Regions from separate parts of the Homo sapiens genome. Here region 2 is linked to region 1. The links come from fine-mapping of genetic effects on gene expression. A gene starts in region 1. The other region holds a variant in brackets. All regions are shown on one strand. Distances are between the middles of the regions. Region 1 holds the start of TMEM181 (transmembrane protein 181). Region 2 overlaps TMEM181 (transmembrane protein 181).

Region 1 (5,485 bases):
ACACTTCTACATTGAAATGCCCCCAGGATGAAAAAGACACATAAAATACACACTAAAAAATGGCTTCACGTGCCAAGCAAGACACACACACACACACACACACACACACAAAAACAGCCTTATTTAAATTTGCAGAGAAATGCTAAAGTAAGACCAAAGCAACATGTGAGCATGAGAGTCTCAACTCCGTGCAGCCCTGTAGCTCAAACAAGTCAGGTTAGCAAATGAGACGCCCCACACCGTCCTCAGACTCCTAGCACCTCTCCCGTCCCTAGCATCATCAGAGAAGGAATGGAGACTGCAGGAGAGTTCAAGGTAAAACTGTTAAGAACTGCTAACCTTTTTTGCTGATGAGTTTTGATGGCAATCTCTCCTACATTTTTAAAGAGCAGGCTGGGCCGAATGAGAGTCAGAGGTCATAAGGCCAGGGTCTGCAGGGGGACGGTCCCCTACACACCGTAAGCAGAGTGGTGGAGCTGCCCCTGCTCCTCCAAGCGGCTCTGTTCTCTCCCATTCTTTCCCTGGACTTCTCTTCTTTCTCACCTTTCTCACCTCTGGGCTCTCAGGCACACCAGACAAGGACAGAGAACACTCAGTCACCTAAGTCCAGGACGCACTTCGGATTTTCAGGCTTGTTTTTTAGGAGGATTTTATCTGCTACCAAACTCTTCTCAGTTTCCAGGTAGGTGCCTGGAATGCTGGCCGATGGTGGTGGGCTGATTTCCAGATACCCTCATCCCCCTCCGTCTTCCCTAACCCTCTTAGTGCTCCACAGAGCCTGAGGCACAAAGCGCTTACAGCTGCAGGGGGAGGCCTCAAACTCGCACAAAATTCAAGCTGCGTTTTGCTTGTCCTCCTCGGGACCTTTCCTTGGTCAACTGCTTTCTTTGGTCTAGTTCCCTGTCCTGTAACAGCGCAGGACCCTGGCAGAAGACCCAGATCCCTGTCCTGGCCAAGGCCCTCACCACCTCACGTCCCCGGCCTCTCTCCTACTGAAAAAGCACACCCAGCCCACCTATGCAGCTCCAAGGGGCAGCGCGTGAGAGAACTCCTGTAACACGCAGCTGTCACTCTGCTACAAGGCCACAGTTCCACAAGACACCGTTCCAAGCAGTATTATTTACATAGGCCGCACAAGAATCTTGCCCTCTGGAGTTGTGCAGAGGCAATACTGCTAACCTACCTCCACTTGGCTTTTAAAATCTTTAAAACATCCACATAGGTCTGATATTTGATGCCATTCCAGTTTCCCAAGAGGTGCTAAAGCAACATACCAAAGTCAGAAACTTCTAAGGAAGCAGAAGGAAAAACAGATCTCTCTGTCACAGGCACTTGCGCTGAGGCAACAGGCCTGGGTGTCACTTCTCTGACCACGTCCACAGCCAGAGAAATCAGCAAAGATCCAAAGCAAAACCCTTCTGCCTCAAAAACCGCATATAAGCCAAGAAGCGCGCCCAGGCCCCTCGGAGGCTGCCTTCAGTGCAGGGAGCCGGCCCTGGAAGCCTCCTGCGCCAGGCGCGGCTGCACATATGGGCCACTCCTTCTCCCGGACTTTCTGCAACTCCACGCGGCGCTAACCCTCTGGTTAACTCCGTCTCCTTCTTTTCCAGATGCGCCCAGGGGGACACCTAGGCGACTGCTGGGTCAAAAGCAAGCTTTAGGGATGGCGTCCACGAGACCCCAAACAGGTTTTTCCTCATTAAAAACCCTGGACTTCAAAGAGGTAAAGAAAAAAAAAAAAGCCCAAAGTCAGCAGATCGTAAAACGCATAAAACTCATATAACTCGACACCCCGAGTCCAAAGGGGCTGTTGCGGCAGGCTCCCCGGTGCCCACGTCACCAATCGCCTCTGAGAGCCTCGCACCCGGCGCTGGGCGAGACCGCAGGGCAGCGCGGGGCGCTCTCGATACCGAGGGGACGACGGGGCGGGGCCTTTCCGGCAGGAGAGGCTGCCCGGGAGGCGGCGGGACTCCGTGCGGGCGGCCACCCTACGCCGGGGAAGGGCCGCAGCGCCCCCGGTTCTCTCGGCCCCCCGGTGAGCGCTGTGGCTCGCAGCCCCGTCCCGGAACCCCGACCGCATCCCGGTCTCTAACCGCGGCCGGGCGGGCAGGCAGGAGGGAGCCCCGGCCCCGGTCTACTCTCGCCCCGCGCAAACACCTCCGCCTGACCCGCCCGCGAAGCCCCCTTCAGCGCCCTTTTCCCTGCCCCCAGTTCCACGTGGGCGCCAGGGACCCTGCGGCACGGCGCCGGGAGCCAGGGATCCCCAACTTTCGGCCGGAGTGTCCGGAGAGCCAGCCAGCCCGCCCGCTCGGCCGGGGACTCACGGCTCCATCTCGGCGCCCAGAGCCCTCGGCCCCGGCCCGCGCGTCCCGAGCCCGCCAGGCGCCGCGCAGCAGCCTCGGCAGCGGCAGCCGCAGCCGGAGCCGGAGCGACAGCGGCTGAGCAGCGGCCGGCCGCGGAAAACTCATCAGAGCGCGACGCCGAGATCACGTGCGCGGAAGCGACTCTCACGGCGGAAGAGGGCGCGGCGCGGTGGAAGCGGGGCCGCGGGCGCGCGGCGAGGGGGGTGGCCCTCCTTCGTGGCCCCGTGCCGGGGCGGAGCCCCACGGCCGGGAGCACCCAGGCTAGCCCTGAGCTGGGGCTCAAGACAGAAGGAATGAGTGAATGAATGACTTAGTTTACCTCTTGTCCCTAGGGCAGGTAAACAGCGCATTCATTCACTCCTACTTCCCGAGTGTCGGGGCGTAAGGATGGGCCTCGGGAGTCCACGAATGCCCTGCAGTTGTCTGGAAAACACTATGGGTGTCTGCATTTTTCTAGGGAGAGGAGCTATAGCTGTATATTCATTCCCTAAGGGTCTTGTGACCCCAAAAAAGGTTAAAAGCCAGGACAAACTTCTGCCACCCCGAATGATGACAGGAACCTTCCGGGCTCTTTCTGGTAGCTTCTCCCGCAAGCCGCTTCTAGACTGCAGCTAGACCAGTGGACCAAAAGCACTTTCCTGATTTCGCATCTTGGCTCAGTGTTCCCCATTTCTGTAATCAAGAATGGATGAGAACCAAGGTTTGGCTATTTCTGAGATTCTCTTTGGAGCATTACTCAAAATGTCCCGTGTTCCCGTGTGCTGTGGGTTTAAAGTCGGTCTGCATGAGTTAAATAAAGGACTTCCAAGCTTCCTTTGCAATGTATCCTCATTCATTCACTAAACTGTAAACAGGCTTACTATTGGCAGAAAAGTGTGGACATGAATAAGGAACAGTTCCTGCCCTCAGTGAAATTACAGGCAAAGAAAATTACCAACAGTAAGTTAGGTAGCCTTAGCTCAGGGTGCTACAGTGAGGAAGGGTGCCTAACTCGCCTTGGGGGAGTGGAGAAGGTAGGGGACAGAATGCAGAGTTTGGGCTGAATCTGGAGGGTGAGGTGGATATTAGGAAGAGGGGGGTTAAAAGGGGGAGATACCAAGCAAAGCACACCCTAAGCCAGGACACCAAGGAATAGTTACACAAAATCTCATTAGTGCTCTGAATCCTAAACCGCAACTCTTCAAGGAATAACAAAAGATTATTTCTTAAGTTCTTTTCATACATAAGCAGAGGGAAAGGGTTCTTCATAGCAACAAGACCGGAGAACAGAAACTGGGTACCTGCAGGGACAGACTGTTCACAGGGACGTGGGGCGCGGGAAGGGGTGAGTCGGAGGGAGTTCTATGAGCTAGAGCAGGGGTCCCCAACCCCGGAGCCTGTTAAATTACAGACGTGAGCCACCGCAACCAGCCCAAACATGCGTTTTCATGCAACACCTTCTGTTAAATGTTTAGGCCTGAGGATGCCTCCCTACTTGAGTCCTTACATAAGGAGCTGCAGCCTGGCATAGTTAACATAAAAGAGAAGACACCCTAATTGAGGAGGATGCTTTTGTAACAAACAGCTGAGTCTCAGCCAATCACAGCCAGTGAGCTTCTGTCATTGGCAGGTGGTTAGCTGATTCAAATAAGCTAGAACATAAACCTGTAACCAGTTAAGCTGTCTCTGCGCCTCAGTTCCACTTTCTGTCCATAAATGTTGTCTAACCACGTTGCAGCCCCAAAGTCCTTTGAACCTGTTGGTTCTGAGGGCTGCCCGATTCTAGAATCATGAAGAAAAGCTACTTAGGATCTTTAAATTTGCTGTCATTTTGTCTTTCGACACTTCTGATTCTAAAATGTTGGAAACTAATTCGAAAAAATATCTTAAACCCTGGGAGGGACTAAACAAAGCACATTTGCTGGCCACATTTGCCTAGAGGCAGCCAGTATCTACCTCCAGCCCAGAGCAGCATGAGATGATGTGGAAATCCCTGCTCTGTGCCAGCTGCCTGGTCTCTCCTGAGGCATCTCCAGCGAGAGGAAACTGTCACCACCCCGAGGACCCCTGGCCCTCACTGTGTGCATTTGACTCCAAACTACCTCCTGGCAATTCCTTCCTGTCAGATCTCCCTGGATTTGCTGTCCAGCGTCACCCAGGTCAGCATGAGCCCTCTCCCAACACTCCTTCAAGGATGTGAACAACCACATGGCCCTCAGCTCCTCTTCTCCCGTCATACTCGTTTTCTCATTTATTTGTTCTTCAAACATTAATGGAGCAGTGTGTGTGTGCCAGGAACAACTCTCAGCTCTGGAAACACAACACGAATAGACAGATGAGGTCCCTGTCCTTTTCTAGTCAAGAACAAACAATAACCTAAATAATTACTTAATTGACCGGGCATGGGCATGGTGGCTCACGCCTATAATCCCAGCACTTTGGGAAGGTGAGGCGGGGATCACCTGAGCTCAGGAGTTCAAGACCATCTTGGCCAATATGGCGAAATCCATCTCTACTAAAAATACAAAAATTAGCTGGGCGTGATGGCGGGTGCCTGTAATCCCAGGTACTTGGGAGGCTGAAGCAGGAGAATTGCTTAAACCCAGGGGGTGGAGCTTGCAGTGAGCCAAGATCACGCCACTGCACTCCAGCCTGAGCAACAGAGCAAGACTCTGTCTCAAATAAATAAATAAATAAATAAATAAATAATTACAGCTGTGATAGAAAAGGAAATGAAAGGTGCTATGATCATGTTATGAAAAGGGGAAAGGGACCCAAACTATTCTGGGCTCTAAGAAGCCTGGTGTGATCTATCAGCCATTTCTCACATGACCTGTTTGTTTTTGAGACAGAGTCTCCCTGTCACCCAGGCTAGAATGCAGTGGCGCAATCTCGGCTCACTGCAGCCTCTGCCTCCCACTCAAAAGATCCTCCGGCCTCAGTCTCCCATGTAGCTGAGACTACAGGTGTGCACTAACACAACCAGCTAATTTTGTATTTTTTGTAGAGACAAGGTTTCACTATGTTGTCCAGGCTGGTCTTGAACTCCTGGGCTCAAGCAGTCTGCCTGCCTCAGCCTCCCAAAGTGCTGGGATCCTAGGAGGTGCACCGCCTTTGGAGATAAGCTACTGTGAAAGTTGTCA
Region 2 (5,259 bases), 64 kb before region 1:
TCCTGTCCCTGGGGCACCCCAAGGATCCCGAGGTCCCCAGTGCCCTTACTTCCAGCTGGTGACTGCACGCTGCACACATAGCAGGTGGCACAGCAAGGACAGAACATGCCCAGCGCGGGCCGAGTGTGCAAGTGAACGTGCTCCAGTCCTCGGCCGCTTACAACAAAAACATGCTCTCCAGGCTGACGGCTGCTCTCGGCTGCCCAGCCTTGGTGGGAGGCCCTCTAACCTCATGAGTCTACTGGGCTAGAAGTACCCTGAAATCCACTCCACAAAAGGAGGCAACAGATATTCCTGACAGTAAAAGAAAAATTCCGTTTTGCTGTTTTCAAGAAATAAGGTCTTCTTACCTAATGACAAGTACTACGAAAGTCAATGCAGTCAAAAATTTCAACCTGAGATCTGAAAAAGAAAGAAACTCATTAACAACTCTGGAAGTAAATTCCACTTGCATTTTATTTTGAAAAATAAAAAACAAAAATTAAGCAAAGCTCTTTGGACAAATGCTCCTCCCTCCAGACTTAGCCGGAGTCGCCAGCAGCCTAGGAGAACGTTGGTCCCTTCCCAGGGCCAGGATGGTGTCCAGGGAGGCCACAGCCACCATCCTCTGGTGGGGACAGATTCAGGAAAGGATCCCGCAAGCTCAGGGTGACTCGCCCTGCTCTGCAGGGTACAGTCCCGCAGGACCCAGGCCACTCTGATGGTCCCAAATGCCAGAGTAACCTGTAAGGCCTGTTGTGGCTCCCAGGGACCACGTGCCCTGGTCCCCAGCCTGTGGGAATGGACCAGTCCCTGGGCCCTCAAGGAAGGCCCCTGGCTTGGGAGACTCCAACCACTTCTTCCCCCACCTGAGTCACTCCCAAGCCACCCCTGCACCGATTCTGAAAGGAGCACTTACCCACATAAGGCATGTGACGTAGCTCGGAACACGCCCGCACTATCAAGAACAAGAGGTACAGAATGTACACCGCTGCCACCACCATGAAGAAGACCTTCATTCCCTAGGAGGACACAAGGCAGCACTTGAGTCGGAACAGGGCCTCTGTGACCTTCTCCTCCCAGCACCACCACAGGCAGGAAAGCCACAGGTTTTTAGAAGGGACTTCAACCCTGAAGGTCCCTCCAGGAAGCAGAACAATGGGCTCCCAGCCGGGACCATCTGCTCAGTCCCGCTGCGAGCACAGGCAGCTCCCCTGAGGTGGACGACACCCCAGGCCTTGCAAATCAGCGGAGCAGAGCCCAAACCCCTCCCACCAGGGACCTGTCCAGGCACAGTGGGTGCTCAGACTGCGGTGGCCACTATCTGTCTCTCTCGCCCCTGGGGGCGAGGGGCTGGCTCCCCACCCTGCCCCTGCATGTGGGAAGGTGGCAGGTGTCCAAGAAAGGACCCAGGCTAGGCCCTGGGAATCCACGCGCCGTCTTAACCATCAACCATTCCCGACCTCTGTTTTCTTATCTGTGACACGAGGGGCTTGAATTAAATGCCCTACAGGACCTAAGGTCTAAAAGTGCACAATTCTGTAATGTCACAGCAAGCCAAAGCCCTTTTCTGAAGATGGAGCTGTGATGGGGAGGGCAGGCCCGTGGGTTCTGACAAGGGCCAGGCCGCGGGGTGGACAGTGTCTTTAGACGCAGTCCCCGCTCCTCGATGGCTCCGGCCCACGCCATCCCCCCACCCCTTTCCTGTCCTCTCAGCGCCAGAGCTCCCCTCTTACAGTCAAGGCTCAGAGCACAGGACAGCACAGCAGGAATCGGGATCATTTTTCTCAAAAGCACCTAAGTGACTTTAGCTGGGACCTTACGTAAAGCAAAGGGACTGGACTAGACCAGCGTGTTTAGCACCGAGAAGGCTCTGCTCTCCGGTGTCTCCTTCAGCAACAGACGTGGGCCCTGGGGTCTGTTCCAGAGCCCACATGGCTGGTTCTCCCCGACACCTGACTGGGAAGGAAGAGCAGCCGACCAGAACCACAGTGACAGGGCCTCAAACTGCGTCAGCCACAAACCAAAGACTGGGAGTAAAAACATTGTTTTAAAGAGCTTTTCTGCCGGGTACAGTGGCTCACGCCTGTAATCCCAGCACTTTGGGAGGCCGAGATGGGTAGATCACTTGAGATCAGGAGTTTGA[G/A]AACAGTCTGGCCAATATGGTGAAACCCCCATCTCTACTAAAAATACAGAAATTACCCAGGTGTGGTGGCGCACGCCTATCGTCCCAGTTACTCAGAAGGCTGACGCAGGAGAACCACTTGAACCCAGGAGGCGGAGGCTGCAGTAAGCTGAGATTGCACCACTGCACTCCAGCCTGGGCGACAGAGCAAGACTCCAACTCAAAAAAAAAAAAAAAATTTCCCCAAATCTTCCACCCTTGAACTTTCTATGTAGTCCTTCCCAAGTAGTCAGTTAGCAAAAAGCTCAACAGAACAATTTAAGTCACAAAATTCAGTAATTTTACAAAACAGCATTAAGAAGAAAAATTGCAGGCCTCATTAACAATCCTTACCTGAAAATTTCCGGTATCAACTCGATACTGGTACATTGGATCATGTAATTCGTTAACTCTAAAAATTGACATTATAAATAATTATAGATTAATAACTACCTTTACTTTTTATTTTACATTTTTTCTTATTGACTTTTTGTTTTTTTTACTTATTAATATAAACTACTTCCTACCAACAGTGAAGGATTTTTACAAAGCAATCCTAAATTTATGAGAAATCCTGAATTTCATATTTCACATGAAAAAACTATACAATCCTACCAAGGGTCCACATTTATCAGTATTGGAAAGTTGCAGTATTTTTTATTACACAAAACCCTATATACTATTTCTCTTGCAGTTTTAAGAGCTGTTTTTCCAGTCACCTTTTTAATGGCACGTATGAGTACTAGGAAATAGACAAGAAAACAAAGAAAGCAATAAAAGCAAATAGAAACTTCCATGAGATTGATTTTCAAAATGAAAATGGGTGGCTGAGATGACAGGGAATTGGGGACAGGGGACTGGAGCAGACGGGGTGACTCACTTGGGTCACTGTGGCATGAAACTAGGCATGCTGGGCTCCGAAGTCACACCTGGAAACGGAGCTACTCCGTGAAAGTCCTATTCATGTGAACCAGGCTGCTACCACACTAGGCTTCTGCTGTGGGGCCATTTTACAGGACAAAAGCACTCATAAAGAGCAAGCGTGGGAGCGGGCATAGGGCTTGAAAGTGTGTGGACACAGCAGAGCATCGGTGGACAGTGGAAAGCCAGGAGCCACCCAAGATTCACTCCTACAACAAGGTCTCCCCTCTCTAAAGGAGAAATTGAAAAGGACATGGTCTTTTTCATCTTTCATCATAGACCAGTAGAATTGTGGATTCTCCACAACTCATTTAAGCAAAAACGAATGTGTCAGTTCAAGTCATACAGCTGTCCCTACTTACCCATGGTTTCACTTTCTGCAGTTTCAGTTAACTGAAATCAGCTGCAGTCAGAAAACGTTAAATGGGACATTCCAGAAAAAAGCATTCCCTAAGTTTTAAATTGCATGCCAATCTGATAGCACGATGACATCCTGCACCATCCCCCCAGGGATGTGTGCCACCCCTTTGTCCTGTGTACCCCGGCTGCAAACGTGGCTCGCCCGTCAGTCGGCCACATCATCTGCTCCTGACACACAACCACCGACACTGTCATGGCTGCGTGACCCTCCCGACATATCACAGGAAGCTCAGGAGCAGCCTAGCCCTATGTCACAATGCCTACACCATTCCCCTCACTTATCCCACACACAGGGACTGGGGCATCTCACATCATCATCATAAGAATACAGGATATTTTGAAAAAGAGAGAGCACGTCACACAACTTTTATTATAATATATTGTTATAGTTTTTCTATTTTATTGGTTATTATTAGCCTAACAAATAATCTTTATCATAGGTATGTATGTATAGAGAAAAACATACCAGAGGGCAGGCGCTGGGGAGGTCAGAGTGGTGTCATCTTGGGCAGAGGTCAGGCAGGGCAGAACAGTGTGGGCGGCCCAACGGGGCAGGCAGGGCGGGTGTCTGGGCCTCGGCAGCCAGGTGGGCTGTCCGGAGGCAGCCTTCAGGGGTGCGGCTGGCTCTGAGGGGCGCTTGGGCCCCTTCCAGCCCAGGGCAGGTGGGCGAGCTGCGGGAGCCCATGGGTCCAGCAGCCATGTGTGGACCTTAAAGCCCTTTGTGGTCTTCGGAAGCGCTTTGACAGCTCTGGACTTTGTATTGCAAAGTAATCAAAGTGCTCTGTAGCCCCTGAAGCAGTTAGGCATCTGTGAAGTGGCCTGCGCAGACAGAAGCGCTTGGTGATCTCAGAAGCACACTGAGCTTGGAAGCCAAACCAAAGCCTTTAGTAAATATCGGATCATTCTGACTTCTCCAAAGCACGCTGGCATCTCTGAAACTGTGAGAACTGTGATGGGCAGTGGGAGGAAGAGGGAAGGGGGTCCATGGTGCTGGATTGGCACAAGGTCAGGTACCACCAGAGCAGAATGTGGGAAGGTGTCCCAGCAAGCGCAGCTGCCTCCGGGAGTCCGGTGATGTGGCCCCCTCAGCTGGCCAGCTCAGAGCTCTGTGTTGGGTTCAGGACGGGCTGGTAGCCCCAAGCGCCTGAAAACCCAGGAAGAGGATGGTGTGGCTTGCTTCGCCGAGGTTATCCTGGGGCTCATCCTGCCGCAGAAGTAACTCCTCCTCCTTGACAGAGCAGGAGCACCTTCATCTTGGACAAACACTGCCACTTTCAGTGCCAGCTCCCTTTCTAACCTCCTGCATTTCAAGGAAATCACTTCTCGAGATTCTAACAAGCAGCAGCCAGAAAGAGCAGATAGTAAAACACAGATAACACAGCTGGGCACAGACAGAGAGGGGAAAGTCTCTTGGGTAAGCACCAAACTTCACACTCATACCATGTGCCCCAGTAGAACAGTGGGTCCTAATAAGCACATTCGTTTCCCTTTAGGTGCACCAAGATAGGAAAGCTAAAAGCAGACGTGGGGGCTATGCCTGCAGTTGCAGGAAGATGTATGGGGAACAGACACAAAACTCTCCCTTCCAGATAAGCAAGACAAAGAGACACACAGAAACATTTCGAGCCTGTGATAAGCTCTCCCACCCTGAACGCTTAAATACTCTTAGCCCGTAAGAGAGTGCCTCTGACCTAACTTGGCCAGAAGGCCCTCTCAGGTTTATTGTCCAAAATAAACCTATTTTTCACTGTTGAGCTGCTTTTCGTGTTTCTTTC

The links. PIP is the estimated chance that this variant, and not a neighbour inherited with it, causes the effect.
Region 2: its variant is fine-mapped to the expression of TMEM181 in thyroid (GTEx, PIP 0.97).

What each region holds. Positions count from the first base shown.
Region 1 is chr6:158,557,072-158,562,556 of GRCh38, reverse strand. It overlaps TMEM181 (transmembrane protein 181), which reads right to left and starts at 2,466. Exons shown (of 17, transcript NM_001376852.1): 1 at 2,325-2,466. The coding sequence starts at 2,332. RefSeq lists enhancers at 435-934, 935-1,436 and a silencer at 1,856-2,775.
Region 2 is chr6:158,620,846-158,626,104 of GRCh38, reverse strand. It overlaps TMEM181 (transmembrane protein 181), which reads right to left. Exons shown (of 17, transcript NM_001376852.1): 11 at 2,498-2,555; 12 at 899-1,001; 13 at 351-402. Among named protein-coding and RNA genes, the nearest start is that of MIR7161, 14 kb to the right of the region's middle. The variant G/A (reference allele first, on the strand shown) is at 2,126.